Linked DNA regions of Homo sapiens. The protein of the gene in region 1 purifies or fractionates together with the protein of each later gene. This does not show direct contact. Each region holds a gene or a part of one and is shown in the gene's direction. Other genes may lie near its edges.

Region 1 (4,782 bases):
CTGGCTTCTCGAGGCTCCGGCGGCTCAGCTCACTGGCTTCACGAGGCTCCGGCGGCTCAGCTGACTGGCTTCTCGAGGCTCCGGCGGCTCAGCTCACTGGCTTCTCGAGGCTCCGGCGGCTCAGCTCACTGGCTTCTCGAGGCTCCGGCGGCTCAGTTCACTGGCTTCTCGAGGCTTCTGGAGGCTTCGGTGGCTCAGCTCACTGGCTTCTCGAGGCTCTGGTGGCTCAGCTCACTGGCTTGGAGGCCACCTTCTCGGTACCAGCATAGCACGTTTCCATTCAGTGGGTTCCTCAGTCTCTCAGGAACACACGTGATTCCTAAGCACCTCCGTGCAGTTTCTCTGCTAATCCTGGTGTGTAGTCTGTGCAGAGAACAGTGCTGGGAGAGACCGATGTCTAGTGGCGGGTTGTCCCCTCTCTGTCGCCTCACCTCTCTGTTTTGTGGGAGCTGAAGGCAAAGCGCCTAGGCCTGTGGAGGGTGGAGTGTGGAGGGTTGCTGCAGGCACCTGGGGGAACAATTTGGTCAGTTCGGCATCCCCCTCGCTAATTGTTAAACTACCCTGCTGTGGCTGAGGGGCAGGAACAATGCAGCCACTGATGTAGTGTCCCACAGTTGAGCGGTCCCTCCCTGAGACTGCCCTGGGGTGCCATCTCGCGCCCTTGCTCTGCTCACAGATCAGTCGCATCGAATACATTCATTCAAAGAACTTCATCCACCGGGATGTGAAGCCAGACAACTTCCTCATGGGCCTGGGGAAGAAGGGCAACCTGGTGTACATCATCGACTTCGGGCTGGCCAAGAAGTACCGGGATGCACGCACCCACCAGCACATCCCCTATCGTGAGAACAAGAACCTCACGGGGACGGCGCGGTACGCCTCCATCAACACGCACCTTGGAATTGGTGAGCCCCTGGGCATGGGGTCACTGACCTGGGGTGCCTTTGGGCGCGTCCATGCCTCAGCCCAGGGAGAGGCCAGCCTCTCGGGGAGCTGGGGCTGCAAGCGTGTCATCAGACCTTTGCGGCAGACAGGCTGGCTCGTGACTGCCAGGTGTATGGGGGCAGGCGGATGCTGGGACATTTCTGAGTCACCTGTGATGTGTTTGGGAATTTCCTTAGTATGCATGAGGGGCAGCTCTGGGTGAGAGTGATCTGGGCATGTGTGTCCGAGGTTCGTCTCCACTGGAAGTGCCAGCTGGAGTGATCTGGGCATGTGTGTCTGAGGCTAGTCTCCACTGGAACGGCCAGCCGGGTCTTTTGCTTTGACGTGAGCACGCAAGTGCCGTTCTTCACGCCTTTCCCTTTTCTTTTCAGAACAATCCCGAAGAGATGACTTGGAGTCTCTGGGCTACGTGCTAATGTACTTCAACCTGGGCTCTCTCCCCTGGCAGGGGCTGAAGGCTGCCACCAAGAGACAGAAATACGAAAGGATTAGCGAGAAGAAAATGTCCACCCCCATCGAAGTGTTGTGTAAAGGCTACCCTTGTAAGTCTCTGGAGGCCTCTTCTCAGCGGAGCTGCTCACAGGGGTTGCATATGTGTCGGGTGTGCCGAGACGGCTCAGTCTGGGTTTTGTCAGAAGAGTTGCTCACCTTCCAAAGGGGTGGTGGCAGGAAAGCGGGGCGCTTTTGTGTATGGAGGTAACAGCCTGCCCTCCTGTTCATCTTGACTTACTTGCCAAGTGCCCATCAGCGTGGGGAGTACTTGGAGGCCCTGGAGAGATGGCAGGCAAGGCAGGCCCGAGCCTCAGGGCCCCAAGTGGCTGGAAAGGGATGGACAGGCAGTGGTGGGGCCTCTCTCTGCAGTGGCTGCCCTCTCTGGCCCCCTCCAGGAGCTCGGGAGATTTCCTTTGCATTTGTAGGATTGCCCCAGGATACACACCTCAAATGAAACTAAATTGTGCTTTATGACTTCTTTTTTTTTTTTAAGACACAGTCTCACTCTGTCGCCAAGGCTAGAGTGCAGTGGCGTGATCTCGGCTCACTGCAAGCTCCGCCTCCCGGGTTCATACCATTCTCCTGCGTCAGCCTCCCCGGTAGCTGGGACTACAGGCGCCCGCCACCACGCTCTAGAACTTTTTTTTTTTTTTTTTCAGTAGAGATGGGGTTTCACTGTGTTAGCCAGGATGGTCTTGATCTCCTGACCTCGTGATCCGCCCTCCTCAGCCTCCTAGAGTGCTGGGGTGACAGGCGTGAGCCGCCGCACCCGGCCGTGACTTGAATACTTTTCGATGCTTTCTCAAGGCTTCAGGTCTTAGAAATCTGACAGGTGTTTTGCATCTGTCCTTCTCCCCTTGAGTGTGCAGCAGCAGGAGGTAGACAGCGACGTTGGCAGAGACACCTTGAGTCGCAGTTGGGTTTCATGAGTTAGCTTTGAGTTTCTTGTTTTGTAGCCGAATTTGCCACATACCTGAATTTCTGCCGTTCCTTGCGTTTTGACGACAAGCCTGACTACTCGTACCTGCGGCAGCTTTTCCGGAATCTGTTCCATCGCCAGGGCTTCTCCTATGACTACGTGTTCGACTGGAACATGCTCAAATTTGTAAGTCGCACTGCCAGCACGTTCGCTGAGTGTGGTGTGCGGGGGATGGCTTGTCAGTGAGAGGCCGGCGGCCGTCTTGTTGAGGGGCTGTACCATATAGGGAGTGTCTCTGGTTGTGAAGGGCAAGTGTGTAGTGGGCAGGACCTGGACTGAGTGGGTGTCTGCCTGCCAGAAAGGGGTGCCAAGAAGTAAGACGCCATTAGGGAACGCAGAGGGGTCCATGGAATTCCTGGGTGTGGACAGCAGGAGGCCCCTTCCCTCCCTGTCACCAAGCGGAGCTAGGGCCCAGAGCATGCCCTGGGGGCAGAGGGTGGGGGCTGGGGGTGCGCATTCCCATTCGCTGTGCCACATGGTCGTGGTGCCCACGAGATGAGTGGGGTTGGGGCCTGGTGAGGTGCTACCCGTCTAGCCTGACTGACCCTGTCATGAGCTGATTTTCCCTGTGGCTTTCTTGATGCGGTGTGAGTATGCAGTGGAGCCTCTAAAACAGGCAGCCCAGCCCTGGGTCCATGTCTGAGCTGAATTACTTTTCAGACACCGCTGTCAGAAATGAAGCTCCTGTGGAACTGTTGTGTTCCTTCATTAAAAACTTACTGTTTTGTTGTCAGTTTTAAATAGAATTTGGAGCTTTTCCAGGCAGCAGTCTGATGGAGGAGCAGAACTGCCTCTTGGGAGGGTACAAAAACGGCAGCCTTGTCCAGTAGTCGTGCAGGGGCCAGGGAGGGGCGGGGTCTCCAGATGCTGGGAGGGGTGCACTCTGTTCATCTTGACTTACTTGCCAAGTGCCCATCAGCGTGGGGAGTACTTGGAGGCCCCGGAGAGATGGCAGGCGAGGCAGGCCCGAGCCTCGGGGCCCAGGTGCCGGGAGGGGTGCACTCGGCAGGGCAGATCAGTCCCTCTGCCGGGGCTGTGCTGCCTCGGGAGGAATCAGAGCGACCCTCCTGCGGCATTAGAGTCACCCGGCCCTCAGAGCAGGCTAGGCCAGCGTTTTCCGTAAATGGCAGCATGAGGAGTCTGGGCGGTGCTGGCCGCACGGTGCTGCAGCCGCAGGTGTGTCGGTCTGTGTGTTGCCTGGTGAACGTGGCTGTGTCCAATGAGCTGTACTTGCAGGAAGAAGTGGCACCTGGGTTTGGCCCCGGGGCTGTAGTTTGCAGGCCCCTGCCGCACAGCATTGGCAGTTAGAATCTGCTTTTTCATAGGTTGCTGTCTCGGCTTAAAATCTGACCTCCCCACCCCCGTGCATCTGGATAGTGCAGCACAGATCCGGCTGCCGGCTGCTGGCCACGCCACCACACCTGCACAGGCTGTTGGAGGCTGCAGGGTCCGGACCCTGAGTGTACTCCTCGTCCGACCAAACGCTCTCATCCCCACCCCGCTTTCCTCCCCAGCTGTCACCATTTGGGGCCTGTCTTTGGCCTCCGATGGTTCCTGTCCCTCTCCTCTTTCTGCACGTGTTAGTGAGCATGTTCACAGAGCAGCAGGGGGTAGCTGCTGCCCATTTGGAAGTTTAAGGAAGTTCTGAGCCCACAGGGAGATGCCATGGCGAGTGGGGTTTTTTCGATTGTTGGGGGAGCTGAGAGGCCTGGCTCTGACCCCTTGTGGGGATGATGCTGTCATCCCATGAGGAGAAACGTGCAGCCTGTGGGGGGCTTTGCAGGCAGTCTCGTCCCAGTGCCCTTTGGTAGGTATTTTCTCACGTGGCCGGGGCAGCCTAGGACCTAGGGTTGCTTTCTGCCAAAGCTGGTTCCATTCCGGCCTCACCTCCTGCCTCCTCAGGGTGCCAGCCGGGCCGCCGATGACGCCGAGCGGGAGCGCAGGGACCGAGAGGAGCGGCTGAGACACTCGCGGAACCCGGCTACCCGCGGCCTCCCTTCCACAGCCTCCGGCCGCCTGCGGGGGACGCAGGAAGTGGCTCCCCCCACACCCCTCACCCCTACCTCACACACGGGTGAGTGCCCCCCTCCCAGCGCTCTGGGGCTGGCTCTGGGGTGACTTCTTGTGTCTTGGGGTTGGTGGGGACAACAGGGTACTTGGTGGTGGACACTAAGTGCCCTGTGTCAGGCGATGCTCGCTCCTGAGGGTGGATGAGCCAGGCTGCCCAGGCGCCTTTAGAAATGCCGGCACCTGCTGGTGTGCGTGATTCCTCCCGCATCTCACGTTCCTCCCCTGTGAGCCCCTTGACCTCGCTCCCATGTCCCTTTGTGTCCCTCCGGCCGGATCTGAGTGTTGGTGGCCATCGG
Region 2 (4,782 bases), on another chromosome or scaffold:
CAGAGAAAAAGGAAGGCTTTTACATTGTTGATGGGATTGTAAATTAGTTCAACCATTGTGGAAGAGAGTGTGGTGATTCCTCAAAGATCTAGAAGCAGGAATACCATTTGACTGAGCAATCCCATTACTGGGTATATACCCAAAGGAATATAAATCATTCTGTTATAAAGATACATGCACACGTATGTTCATTGCAGCACTATTCACATTAGCAAAGACGTGGAATCAACCTAAATGCCAGTCGATGATAGACTAGATAAAGAAAATGTGGTACATATGTACCATGAAATACTATGCAGCCATAAAAAGGAACGAGATCATGTTCTTTGCAGGGACATGATGGAGCTTGTAGCCATTATCCTCAGCAAACTAAGGCAGGAACAGAAAACCAAACACCTCATGTTCTTGCTTGTAAGTGGAAGTAGAATGATGAGAACACATGGATACATGCGGAGAACAACACATACTGGGGCCAGGTGCAGTAGCTCACACTTGTAATCCCAGCACTTTGGGAGGCCGAGGTGGGTGGATCACCTGAGGTTGGGAGTTTGAGACCAGCCCCTGACCAACATGGAGAAACCCCCGTCTCTACTAAAAAGACAAAATTGGCCGGGCGTGGTAGCGCATGCCTGTAATCCCAGCTACTTGGGAGGCTGAGGCAGGAGAATCACTTGAACCCAGGAGGCAGAGGTTGTGGTGAGCTGAGATCGCGCCATTGCACTCCAGCCTGGATAACAAGAGCAAAACTCCATCTCAAAAACAAAAAACAACAAAACACACATGCTGGGGTCTGTTGGGGGGGCAGGGGCAGGGAGAGCATTAGGAAGAATAGCTAATGCATGCTGGTCTTAATACCTAGGTGATGGGTTGATCTGTGCAGCAAACCCCCATGGCACATGTTTGCCTATGTAACAAACCTGCACATCCTGCACATGTACCCCAGAACTTAAAATAAAAATTGAAGGGAAAAAAAAGAAAAAAGAAATCTATACATGTGATAAAAGAGCATAAAATCATACAAACACTTTGTATCAATGTCAATACCTGGTTATATTGTTGTACTGTAGTTTCATAAGATGTCACTAAGAAGATAGGGAAACAGGACCTCTTTGTACTAACTTTACAACTGTTTGTGAATCTATATTTTTCAAAATAAAAAAAACAGGATAAAAACAGGGTAGCATTTGAGGAATGCTTTTTTAAGTCAGATGTTCTAAGTTGATATTAAGAATAAAACCTTTTAAAAACTGAACCTTTTTGAATTCAGAAATGTCCTGCATCCTCATGAAAACAGCATGTATTTTATCCTCCAAGAATTAGTTTTGGGAGAAGGGGACAAAAGCACTCACATTTTGACTGCCTACCTTTGCCCAGTAGATAGTAAGGGATTTTTGCATACTTTCTCACAGTAACCTGGGGAGGAGGTAGTGGGATCCTCATTTTATATTTGGGGAAATAATCCTAGAAAGATTAGGTAACTTAACCAAGATCCCACAGTTAGTAAGTAGTTGAGCTAAGATTCAGATCCAAGTCTGACTAGCTCCAAAGCTTGTACTTCTTCCTGCATCATTGGGCCTCCTCTGCAAATGGAATGCCATAAGTGTTTACAAGAGAAAATATTTTATTCCTGGAATGTGATCCACCCAGCAGTCGACAGTTGCCAGTGATGGCAGTATACTTGAGAAATGTTCCTTCTCAGTATCTCCTACAATTTGAATAAACTTCCACAAGATAATCATTTCAAAAGTTCTTTCAGATCTCTTGTTCAGTTCACAGCCTGCCTTGTCAGCCCACACATGAGTGAGGGACAGAAGCTCTGTGAAGCACTAAGATAACAGGCAGGTAGCAATGGGCTAGGAACCAAGGGTTGGGCTAATACACAATGATGGCACAGACTGCTTCTTAGACCACTCAAACCTGTGTCGTTTATTTGGAATTATCTTCAAAAGCTAATCATAGTAGCAGGTTAAATTGGGACAATTTTGCTTCACAAATGTATATAGGGTAGTTTATTATATAATAGAAGAATTAATAAATCTTGAAATTATTTTAATCATGTAAATATTTGCCTGTAACATAGTTTGTAGCCAGCTTCTTGGAGGCTTTCAAAAGACATGAGACATGAAAAGCTAAGTAGAACTTAAGTATAAATGGGGGTGTGGAGGGAAAACAAAAACAAATGAAAAAGTGATAAATTATAAGATGCTGCCTCCATGTGCAATATGAGAAAAGGGAGAGATTATTGAGAGCTGAAGGGACTAGAGAAACTTTCTTGAAAGGTGGCAGGATTGAGTAGCATTTGGGTAGTCAGATGAAGGAAAAAAACATTTTAGACCTGGAAATGGGAAATTGTGAAAAGACACGGCTTGGGCTATGCTATTAATATTAAACATTTCTCCTCTCAGGTTTCTGCCCCATTTGAAAGGACTTAAATGCTTCTAAAGCATATCCTTTTATGCCTTACACTTATCCTGTCTGTAGGCTTTTATAGTACCTTACAAGGCATGTCAAAGGGCAAAATTCTTTTACTTGTCTTAGTTTTTTGTTTGTTTGTTTTTGTTTGTTTTTTTAATGACTGTGGAACATTCTTAATCTCTGCAACACAAATTGCATTTTTCTCTGCTCATCTTTGTATTTGTGTGTGTGTGCACATGTGCTCAGGAAAGGAATAAACTATACATAGAAGTCTTACTTTTGTTCTTATAATAAAACAGACTGTAATATGTTTACTACTGTAGCAATATGTTTTAGTTTTTATTTAACTTTTAGGTTTTTTTATTGTAAAATATCAGTTCATCGGCATTATTAGTCATTAGGGAAATGCAAATTAAAACAACTATGGGATAGTACTTCATACTCACTTAGGGTGAGCAACTGCCACTGATTGCCTGGGATTGAAGTTAATTAAAACGAAAGTAAGTGCACAGTCTTGTTCAGGCCATAAGGTGTTGACCTATCCACCTGCTCGTGGATAGGTCCAGAATGCTCATATTTTTCCATAAACTGGACACACTGACAGAAATGTTTCCCTAAAACATACTTCTCTGTTCTAGCCAACCTATTCTCCTATAATAGTGTTTGTTTTTAGAAGGGTTGATAGGATTGCTTAGGCTAGGTAACTGCCACATAGTCTGTGTCTTCTGCTTGTCGTATGATTTGAATTGTTTAACTCATCGGGCAGGCCCTTATTCCCTTATCCTCAAGGAAATATGTTTGGAGGAGCTCTGAAGGAAAAGCGTGGGAAAAGGGACAAGAGTGAGGGAGGAATGTCTATCTCACTCTTGCCCCTATGTTTTACCTTCATGGTCAAGTTTCAAATTGTCATCTAGTAAGGAAATGTTTTTTAGAAAATGATCATCAATGATTTTTCCTTTGAGCTGTCAACACTTCTGTGAGCCTAAATTTAAGTTTTCCTGGTTTGAGCATGTGATTTTTGGTTCATAGGAAGATTGAGATTTAGTCTTAAAAGCATATAAATGACCTTAAGTACAAGCGCTAAAAGTTGGATTTGTAGACTTAATAATACATACATCTTGGATTTGATTTTAAGTAATTTTACTGTGTTTTAAATACTAACAGGTTGCTCTCAAGGGAGTGGTATTTTACACTATGCTCATGGCGACAGTCAGCAAACTCACCTGTTGAAGCAAGGTAAGAATGAAGCATTGGAGCATACTGTTCTTTTTCCTTTTCCTATCTTAAACATACATTTTTTAAATGTGCAGGAAGAAGCTCCATGGGCACTGGTCTCAGTGGTGGGAAACGTCCTAGTCAGGAAGAGGACACACAGAGTATTGGTCCTAAAGTCCAGAGACAGAGCACTAATTAGGTAAATATTTTAGAGCTGTATTTCTTGCTTTAGAAGAGTATATAATTAACATAAATTAAGATAATTTCAAAAATGGAGCAAATCTCTATTTTCAAACCAGAAAATCTTGAGGCATTAATTTTTAAGCAATTTTTACAAACTCAGTTAATTTTTGGTCAAGAGACATGCATCTGTACTGGAGAAATTGTTGCACCAGTTTTATATTCATCTGAACCAATGCTCTTTAAATTAGAGATGTTTATGATTTTGTGGTCAAGTTTTTTCTTAGAAAAAGACAACTTTTTTATTTCCTTACTATGTAACTATGAGTCTAAAACAATTAAAGTGGCCTGTTTATTTTAGTGACATTAATATAATCTTTTTATGAACTTTCCCCTAAATCTTTGCCTCTTAAATGTTGATAAATTTCTTTTATCTGTTATGATGCTTCTAAAATCTAAATTATTTCCAATTTGGGAATAGTTCAAAATTTTTTAAAATGCTGGCCCTTATTAGAAGTATCAGAAAGCCTTGCCTGCATTCAATTTAATTGGATTTGGGATGTCATTTTGTGATTTAAATTAATATGAAAAATATTTATACGTTGGATTTGCCAGTTTTTAAAAATTTTCTGTTTCTTCAGTTTCTAACACTGTTTACATTTTTTATTGCTTAGTTTTTTTATGTCAACCTAATTAGACTATAAGTATCTTGAAGATAAGGTCAATAAACACTCATCACATTTTTGTCATTGAATTATTTGCAATCAAGCTTTACCTAGTTTTTTTTTCCCCCTTAAATCACAGAAAACATTCAGGAGGAATACTGTTGCAGCTGAAATTGGTGGGGAGTTCAATACTTTTCAATTAAGTTATTTAAAAATATTCTTCATTGATGGAAAGCAGTTACATATTGAAATATGTTGTTTCTAATGACATTTCTGTGGTTTTTAACTTTTTAATGAATTTCACAGA
Region 3 (4,782 bases), on another chromosome or scaffold:
TTTGTGTATTCTTCTTCAGGCTTTTAATCTTGCACAGTTTTTGCTTGTTGACTACAATCCTTGGGTGAAGTTTAATGAATAAAATGCCAAGATTTATCTTCAATCCTTTTGTAGACACTCCACATTCATGGATGTGTATATATATTTAGTCACACACGTGCCCAGACATGTTAGTCAGTTTACTTTCTCTGGCTACCACGGGGGCCACCATTTCTACTCTTGGTCAAAAAGAGACATTTGGAAATTGGGCATTCAGCAATTTTGGGAAATACCAGTGAATCCTGATTACGCTTGTGTGTTTTTACCACATAGTTAAAACAAGGTGAGAGTTGGGAGGTTCATTGTACAGTTGACTGTGAGTTGGGGATTTAAAAAAAATTCCTTTAATCTATCCCTAGCCAGTGTCCTTTCAAATGATCATTTATTGGAATGTTGTGATTTTAAAATCAGATTTTTTCCCCCCAATACATTTTATTCTTGTTTAGTGACAATGATAGAAGAAGAGAAATCATTGTGTGGGTTGTTAATATGACTAGTCATGGGTGCTCTTCACAGCTTCTGTTGGCTTTGTTCCAACCTGCAACATGCACCCGGGTGTGTAACCATAAACCGTTTTATAATGTTTTGGTAAAGTGGCCACAGTTTTTGCGGGGATAGACTGCCTGCCTAGTAACTTAGTTCCTTAATTTAATGAAGATTTTTTTTTCTAGTTCTTCTTAGTGAATCTGTATGTTCCTCTCTTATTGGTGGAGAGTAGTACAGTCATATAAATATATATTTTGTGGGTAGTTGAAATGTTCTTTTAGGTAGTGCCAGAGAATATCTGTGGTCTGCCTGTATTATTTGGAAATTGACTTCAAATGAATTTTCCATGGAAGCAGTGAAAGTGCCACACTTGTCATGGAGCTAGTGTGTGCAGGTGTGTGTGTGTGTGTGAGAAAGGGGCCTAGTGTTCAGTATACACATAGCATTTCCTGTTTTTCCAGTTAGAAGTGGCTCTGCCCTTGCCTCAATGTGACATGTGTTTTAACTCATGTGGCCTGATTTGCTTGTTTGATTTTTCTTACAGGTATTTTTCATTCCAGGATTCACTAGCGTTACAAGATCGAACTGTTTTGATTGTTCATCCCTGGTTGTTATCTCTACCAGCCTTTTTCTGAGTAATTTCAGTGTGAAGCATGCTGCTGTTTAGGTACTGTGAGTTATCCATAAAGGGACCAAATCGCAGGGCCCTTTAATTAAGCATACCGGCATATTAGCAAATACCTTTATACGTTTTGTGCCAGAGATACTTAAGTATCTTCATTTTCTTTGGACTTTTCATTTTACCAGATGGTATTAATTATTCACATATACCTTGTATTAGTGAGAGAACCAGAGAACCAGAACCAATAGAATATACATAGAAAAAAAGAGATTTATTACAAGGAATTGTCTTACATGATTATGGAGGCTGAGAAGTCCCATGATCTGCTGTCTCCAAGATGGAGACCCAGGAGAACCAATGGTATAAGTTCTAGTATAAGGTCAGGAAAATATAGATGTATTAGCTAAGCAGCTAGAGAGAGAGAGAGAGAAAGAGAGAGACAGAGAGAGAGACAGAGAGAATTCAATCTTTCTTCACCTTTTTGTTCCATTTGGGCCTTCTACTGGTTGGATAATGCCCACCCACATTGGGGAGGGCCTTTTCCTTTACTCAGTCCATCAATTCAATGCTGATTTCCTCCAGAAACACCCACAGGTACAGCCAGAAATAATGTTTAACAAGATATCTGGGCACCCCAGTAGACCAATCAAGTAGACACATAAAATTAACAATCACATATCTGTAATACAATCAGAGTCAGGTTTTGTTAAAACATTTTTGTAAAAGTATACTTCCCAAGTTGGTTTAAATGAGCTGACTCCAAGAGTGTTAACACCAGGTACCACTTCTCTAAGTCCTGCTTCTCTACAAAGTCTTTCTCAGTAGTGCTAGCAACATCATACTTTTTCCTTCCTGACCAACACTTCCTTTATTGAACCAATTGATGGCAGCATTTTTGGTGTATTCTTGGTTTTGTGAGTGTATCTTCTGTAAGACAGTAAGTTCATCCACAATGAAGACAGTATCTACTGGCATACCTTGGAGACAAATTGTGGGTTTGATTCCAGACCACCACCATAAAGTGAGTATTACAATAAAGTGAGTCACTTGAATTTTTTGGTTTCTGGGTGCATATAAAAATTATGCTTAAACTATACTGTAGTCTATTAAGTGTGCAATAGCATTGTCTAAGAAAACAATGTACATACCTTAATTAAAATACTTTATTGCTAAAAAATGCTGATGATCATCTGAGCCTTCAGCAAGTCATACTCTTTCTGCTGCTGGAGGTTCTTGCCTTAGTGTTGATGGCTGGTGACTGATCAGGGTGGCAGTTACTGCATGTTTGGGTAGCTGTGGCAGTTTCTTAAAATAAGACAGTAATGAAGTTTGCTGCATCAACTGACTCTTCCTTTCACCAAAGATTTCTCTAGAGCATGTGTTGCTGTTTGATAGCACTTTCCCCATAGTAGAACTTTCAAAATTGTAGTCAGTCTTCTCAAACCCTGCCACTGTTTTATCAACTAAGTTATGTAATATTCTAAATTGTTTGTTGTCCTTTCAACAGTGTTTAGAGCATCTTCAGCAGGAGTAGATTCCATCTCAAGAAATGAGTCTTTATTTTTTCATCCATAATAAGCAACTCCTCATCTGTTAGTTTTATCATGAGATTGCAGCAATTCAGTCACATCTTCAGGCTCCGCTTGTAACTCTAGTTCTCTTGCTATTTCCACCGGATCTGCAATTACTCCTCCATGGGAGTCTTGAACCTCTCAAAGTCATCTATGAGAGTTGGGATCAACTTCTTCCAAACTCCTGTTAATGTTAATATTTTGATCTCCTCCCATGAATCATGACCGTTCTTAATGGTATTTAGAATGGTGAATCCTTTCCAGAAGGTTTTTGATTTACTTTTCCACTTTTCCTGGATACATCAGAGCAATCAGTATCTATGGCAGCTATAGCCTTACAAAGGGTATTCCTTAAGTAATAAGACTTGAAAGTTGAAATTACTCATTGATCCATGTGCTGCAGAATGAATGTTGTGTTAGCAGGCATGAAAACAACATTTATGTCTTTGTACATCTCTATCAGAGCTTTTGGGTGACCAGGGGCATTGTAATTGAGCAGTAATATTTTGAAAGGAATCTTTTTCCTGAGCAGTGGGTCTCAACAATGGTCTTAAAATATTCAGTAGATCATACTGTAAACAGATGTGCTGTCATCCAGGCTTTGTTGTGTAGAGCACTGAGAGAGTAGACTTAGTATCATTCTTAAGAGCCCTGGGACATTCAGAATGGTAAGTCAGCATTGGCTTCAACTTCAAGTTACCAACTGCATTAGCTTCTAATGAGAGAGTCAGCCTGTCTTTTGAAGCTTTGAAGCCAGACATTGACTTCTCCCTCTAGCTATGAAAGTTTTGACCAGCAGTCCCCAACATTTTTGGCACCAGGGACCAGTTTTGTGGAAGACAGTTTTTCCACGGACTGGGGGATGGGGTGGGGGAGGGGGATGGTTTCATGATGATTCAAGCTCATTACATTTTTCATTAGATTCTCCTAAGAAGCACGCAACCCAGATCCCTTGCATGCACAGTTCACAATAAGGTTCGTGCTCCTTTGAGAATCTAATGCCTCCACTGATCTGACAGAAGATGGATTGCTTGCCTGCCACTCACCTCTTGCTGTGCAGCCTAGTTCCTAAACCCAGGGATTGGGGTCCCCTGTCCTAGATGACATCTTCTTCCAATATAAGGCCATTTTGTCTACACTGAAAACCTGTTGTCTAGTTGTAGCCATCTTCATCAATGATCTTAGCTCCATATTCTAGATAACTTGTGCAGCTTCTACATCAGCACTTGCTGCTTCACCTTGCACTTCTATGTTATGGAGATGGCTTCTTTCCTTAAATCTCATGAACTGCCGGGCACACTGGCTCATACCTGTAATCCCAGCACTTTGGGAGGCCAAGGTGGGTGGATCACTTGAGGTCAGGAGTTCAAGACCAGCCTGGCCAACATGGCGAAACCCTGTCTCTACTAAAGATGCAAAAATTAGCCAGGCCTGGTTGTGCGTGCCTGTAGTCCCAGCTACATGGGAGGCTGAGGCAGGAGAATTGCTTGAGCCCGGGAAGCGGAGATTGCAGTGAGCTGAGATCGCACCACTGCACTCCAGCCTGGGCGACAGAGCAAAACCCCATCTCAAACAAACAAACAAACCTCATGAACCAACGTCTGCTAGCTTTCAATTATTCCTTTGCAGCTCTGTCATCTCTCTCAGCCTTCATTGAAGAGAGTTAAGGCCTTGCTCTGGATTGGGCCTTGACTTACGGGAATATTGTGGCTGGTTTAATTTTTTATCCAGACCACTAAAACTGTCTCCCGAGAAGCGATAAGGCTGTTTTGCTTTCTCATCCTTTGTGAGTTAGCTGGAGTAGCAGTTTAAGTTTTCTTCAAGAACTTTCCTTTGCATGCCCAACTTGGTTCACTGTTTGGCTAAAGAGGCCTAGTTTTGACCTGTCGTGGCTTTTGACATGCCTTCCTCATTAAGCAAAATCATTTATAGCGGTTGATTTAAAGTGAGAGATGTGTGACTCTTCCCTTCACTTTAACACTTAGAGGCCTTTGTAGGGTTATTAATTGGCCTCATGTCAATATTGTTGTGTCTGAGAGGATAGGGAGGCCTGAGCAGAGGAAG
Region 4 (4,782 bases), on another chromosome or scaffold:
CACTGGGTTACTCAATAGTAGATGAGGGCAAGCATCTCTCTATAAAAGTATTCTGATTATTAAATTAAAAAGGAATGGTGGAATTTGAATACCACCATTTTGTAACCCTCAATAATGATGCATTATGTATTGGTGACTGCTGACACCATAGAAGGAGGCAAGCATTATGTGCCCCCTGTAGTCTTGTCAAAGGGATCAAACCTGAGTCCAGTCCAGTTTCTGGTACTAGCCACCAATGTGCAGGTGATACACAGGACACAGCACTTGTTGAACTGCACCATGAGTATACAGTCAGCAAAATCCAGACTGTGGGAATCTTGGCAAGTCAGATGGCCTGGATTCTTTCCCAGAACAATGGAAAGGAAAAGAAAAAAATGGCATAAAATGTGCAGATTAAAAGAAAATTAAATAACATATTAAAGTTTTTTTTAAGGCCAGGCACAGTGACTCACACCTGTAATCTTAGCACTTTGGGAGGCCAAGGCAGGAGGATCTCTTGAACCTAGGAGTTCAAAACCAGCCTGGGCAACATGACAAGCCCTCATCTCTAAATAAAAACAAATTAGCCGGGTGTGGCAGCATGTGCCTGTAGTGCCAACTACTTGGGAGGCTGAGGTGGGAGAATCACTTAAGCCCAGGAAGTCATGCCACTGCACTCCTGCCTGGGTGACAGAGAGTGGGGTCTCAGAAATAAAAGAAAAAGAATCCCAGCACTTTGGGAGGCCGAGGCAGGTGGAGCACTTGAAGTCAGGAGTTCGAGACCAGCCTGGCCAACATAGTGAAACCTCATCTCTACTAAAAATACAAAAACTAGTTAGGCATGGTGGCGAGTGCCTGTAATCCCAGCTACTTGGGAGGTTGAGGCACGAGAATCGCTTGAACCTGGGAGGCGGAGGTTGCAGTGAGACGAGATCATGCCACTGCACTCCAGCCTGGTTGACAGAATGAGACTCTGTCTCAAAAAAAAAAGAAAACTGAGTAGCTGGGATTACAGGCTCCCACAATCATGCCTGGCTAATTGTTGTCCTTTTAGTAGAGACAGGGTTTCACCCTGTTGGCCTGACTGGTCTCAAACTCCTGACCGCAAGTGATCCTCCTGCCTCAGCCTCCCAAAGTGCTGGAATTACAGGCATGAGCCACCACACCCGGGCAGAAATAAAGTTTTTTAAATGGCCAAGACTAAATTGTAATACCTAGGAATGCACATTTGGGTAAAAAAAAAAAAGCTACTTAAACACAAAGAATAACTGTGAAAAGATAAAGTCCTTCCTTTCAAACGTTTTGCCAAAATAGAAAAATGTAAACATTTCAGAAATGCAGAACGTGTTTATTATAAAAGCTGAGGTAGGGGTTGCATATACTGGGGGGCAGGAGGGAACTATTCCTGGGATGAGCACATAGACTCTTGGGGTGGCTGTCAAAGCTCTGTTTCCCAAACCTTGGTGGCTATTGCGTGGATGTTTGCCTTAGAATAATTCATTAAGTCACACATGTGTGTGATTTTCTGTATCCAAGTTTCATTTAAAATAAAAATATTTTAAAAGCTGGGGGCTAGCAAGGGTGTGTACACGCAAAAATACCTAGTATCTGTTAGAAGTGCTTAACCTGATACCACAGGGGTTACCTGCAGAGGAGGAAGCCTTGAGGTTGCGACTTGAAGGAAGAGTCTCAGTTAACCAGGTGAAGGTGAGGGAAAGGAAGACAGTGGTCCAGAGGCAGCTGCTTGTGCAGAGGCAAAGGCCAGTGAGAGCAGATGCGTAAAGAAGAGGGGCAGCAGGAGGCGGAGGGTACAGTGAGCCGAGATCACACCACTGCACTCCACCCTGACCCTGTCTCAAAAAAAAGGGGCAAGAGACAGAGCTGGAAAGGCCTGGGTGCTGGGGAGCCACAGAAGCTTTCATGAAGATTTGGGCTCTGTCCTCAGAGCAACAGGAAGCCCACTGTGTACATTATCCCGAGCAACAGGCATTACATTACTCTGGTCCCAGCGTGGAGAATGAGTTAGCGGGGGATGGGAGTGGACGCAGGGAGGCCAGTCAGGAGGCTGCCACAGTTGTCCAGTCTAGATATGACCTTAGCCTGAACCAGGTTGGTGGCAGCAGGGAATGGAAAGAAAAGGACAGATTTGGGAAATATTTAGGCAGTAGAATTGACAGGACTTGGTGAGGGGACAAAGGTGATGGCTAGGATTGTGCCTTGGGCAGCTAGGTAGCTAGCAGTGTATTATCTGAGGTAGGGAGGCCAATGGAAGGGTGGGTTAAAAGAAAAGGGCACATCTCCCTTGAGCTGCCTGAGAGGCAGCCAAGTAGAGGTTTCTAGCAGGCAGCTGGGTGGAGCAATCTGGGCTAGAGCTATGGATGTGGTGGTTGTCTGCAAAGGGGTGGAACTGGGAGCCATGGGCCTGGATGAGCTTGCTGAGGCACACAGTTGAGTAGAGAACCTAGAGCTGAGCCCTGGGTACCCACATTTAAGGGAGAGGCAGAGGAGGTGGAGCTGATGAAAGACCAAGAGCGCCAGGCAGCTGGGAGATACCAGGAGATGTGGAGTCACAGAGGCCAAGGAATCAAGAGGATAAGACAGCACAGTTGGCAGGTATAGCGCTGCTGAGAGATCCCAAAATACAAGGTCAGAAAGTGCCTGCAGGACTCAGTGGCACAGAAGTCACAGGAGACTCTTGTGGGAACCAGCCTTGTGGTCACCTGAGGTTTGGAGTTAGAGACCAGCCTGGCCAACATGGCGAAACCCCATGTCTACTAAAAATACAAAAATTAGCCAGGTGTGGTGGCAGGTGCCTATAATCCCAGCTACTCAGGAGGCTGAAGAGAGTCAAGGTTGTGAAACAGTATCATGGAGAGGAGGAGAGGATGTTGGGAGTTAAGAAAGTGGAAATAGGCCGGGCACAGTGGCTCACACCTATAATCCCAGCACTTTGGGAGGCCAAGGTGGGCGATCAGGAGAATCCCTTGAACCCGGGAGGTGGAGGTTGCGGTGAGCCGAGATCACGCCACTGCACTCCAGCCTGGGTGACAAGAGCAAAACTCTGTCTCAAAAAAGAAAAAAAAATAAATAAAAAAAGTCGTGAGAGACTGCATGGAACAGCAAGTCAGGAAAGTAAAGTCCTATGCCAGCAACCAGTGATGATAAAAACATGACCAGTAATGTTATATGACACATGGCCCCAGAAATGAATGATTCCATTGGTCCCCAGGAATGGATTGGAAGTTTCCTCCTTCCCCAGCTGCTGTTGAACAATAATGCGAAGTCCCTGGTGTCTGTGATACAACCTCAGGGCCGCTAGTGACTAGAGAAGGGACTGAGATATTCTTTTCTGTAACATAGAAGCCTTGTTTCCTGCTGTATAATTAGAGAGTTCATTCAGTGCTTTCAGAATTCTTTCATATCTCATTTTAATCCACAGAAGATTGGAAATTTTGTTCTTATTTAATAGATACGTAGCTGAGGGAAGTAACAACGTGTTCACAGTCACCCCACAAATTAAAGAGCAAGTCAGAGAATGACATAGACTCGTTGTTTGGTCTGATGGTGGTTCCGTCTCAAAATCGGCTGGACAAGCACAGTGTTCCATGGCTCCATGGCTGGCTGTTCTGTGACCGTAGGCAGATTCCTTAACCACCCAATGCCTCCATTTTTTCCTCTGTTACATCCAAGCCTTTCCTTTTGCCACCTTCTCTTTCTGCTGTAGGCCTGGGTTGCCAACTATGAGAGACCCCGAATGAACGCCAACTCCCTCCTGGCCAGCCCCACAGGCCTCAGCCCCTACCTGCGCTTTGGTTGTCTCTCCTGCCGCCTCTTCTACTACCGCCTGTGGGACCTGTATAAAAAGGTAAGGGGGACATACCTGCCCACATTGCACCTAAGGCCTGCAGCCAGGCCTTTTGGGCTTGTCAGTCACCCTAAAAAAGGCACTGGTGGGTGGGGGTTGGGCTATGGCCCCTGGAAGGGCCTAAGTGTGTGCAGATAGTCCGGAGGAGGAGAGAAGACTCAATATCCAAGAGGGCAGAGCCAAGCACAGAGTGAACTGCCCACCAGAATGAAGCCCAGACCATCATGTAGAGCAGAAGGACAGGCAGAAAAGCAGGCCTCAGGTGTGACCCTAGAGGTGGCATATCCTCTGGCAGCTGGTGGACAGGGGCGAGGTCCCCAGGGTGAGAGGCATGGAGAGGGTGAGGCTGGAGCCAGTCTGAAGTGGAAGAGCATAGCTGCCCGCTCTGGAGCTGTGTCCACAGCATTCAAAAGGGGAGTCCAGGAACAGCAGTTGCCCATCAGTGATGGAGGGAGTGGTGTGGAGGGGCTGCACACAGGGCTGTGCTATACAGACAAGAAGCAAATAAGCCTGTGTTAACTGTCCCCAGAAGGAGAGAGGGCAACACAGTCAGCATTCAGAGGGATCACCTCATCTTGTGCCTATGTTTTTTGTTTCTGTTGTTTATTTAAGAGACAAAGTCTAGCTGTGTTACCCAGGCTAGAGTGTAGTGTGGCCTGATCACAGCTCACTGAAACCTCAGACTCCTGGGCTCAAGCAATCCCTCTGCCTCAGCCTCTCAAGTAGAGCTAATTTTTTACATTCTTTGTAGAGATAGGGTCTTGCTATGTTGCCCAGGCTGGTCTCGAACTCCTGGGCACAAGCAATTGTCCTGCCTTGGCCTCCCACAGTGCTGGGATTACAGCCGTGAGCCACCATGCCTAGCCGTTGTGTCTACATTTGTTTTTTTGTTTGTTTTTGAGACAGGATCTCATTCTGTCACCCAGGCTGGAGTACAG

What was found. Proteins that work in one complex are often made in the same cells at the same time.
Region 2: the proteins of CSNK1D (region 1) and CRY1 purify together in Homo sapiens (affinity purification with mass spectrometry; 4 studies listed by BioGRID and IntAct, with this or other methods). This does not show direct contact.
Region 3: the proteins of CSNK1D (region 1) and FAM110B purify together in Homo sapiens (affinity purification with mass spectrometry; 4 studies listed by BioGRID and IntAct, with this or other methods). This does not show direct contact.
Region 4: the proteins of CSNK1D (region 1) and CRY2 purify together in Homo sapiens (affinity purification with mass spectrometry; 4 studies listed by BioGRID and IntAct, with this or other methods). This does not show direct contact.

Annotation. Positions count from the first base shown.
Region 1 is NC_000017.11:82,249,139-82,253,920, reverse strand, and holds part of CSNK1D (casein kinase I isoform delta), read left to right. Parts: intron 1-676; coding exon 677-905; intron 906-1,316; coding exon 1,317-1,487; intron 1,488-2,393; coding exon 2,394-2,542; intron 2,543-3,741; exon of another isoform or gene 3,742-4,223; intron 4,224-4,318; coding exon 4,319-4,490; intron 4,491-4,782. UniProt on the Homo sapiens protein: Essential serine/threonine-protein kinase that regulates diverse cellular growth and survival processes including Wnt signaling, DNA repair and circadian rhythms. It can phosphorylate a large number of proteins.
Region 2 is NC_000012.12:106,991,834-106,996,615, reverse strand, and holds part of CRY1 (cryptochrome-1), read left to right. Parts: intron 1-3,579; coding exon 3,580-3,651; intron 3,652-3,725; coding exon 3,726-3,829; exon of another isoform or gene 3,830-4,614; coding exon of another isoform or gene 4,615-4,678; 3' UTR 4,679-4,782.
Region 3 is NC_000008.11:58,000,457-58,005,238, forward strand, and holds part of FAM110B (protein FAM110B), read left to right. Parts: intron 1-4,782. UniProt on the Homo sapiens protein: May be involved in tumor progression.
Region 4 is NC_000011.10:45,863,909-45,868,690, forward strand, and holds part of CRY2 (cryptochrome-2), read left to right. Parts: intron 1-3,703; coding exon 3,704-3,844; intron 3,845-4,782. UniProt on the Homo sapiens protein: Transcriptional repressor which forms a core component of the circadian clock.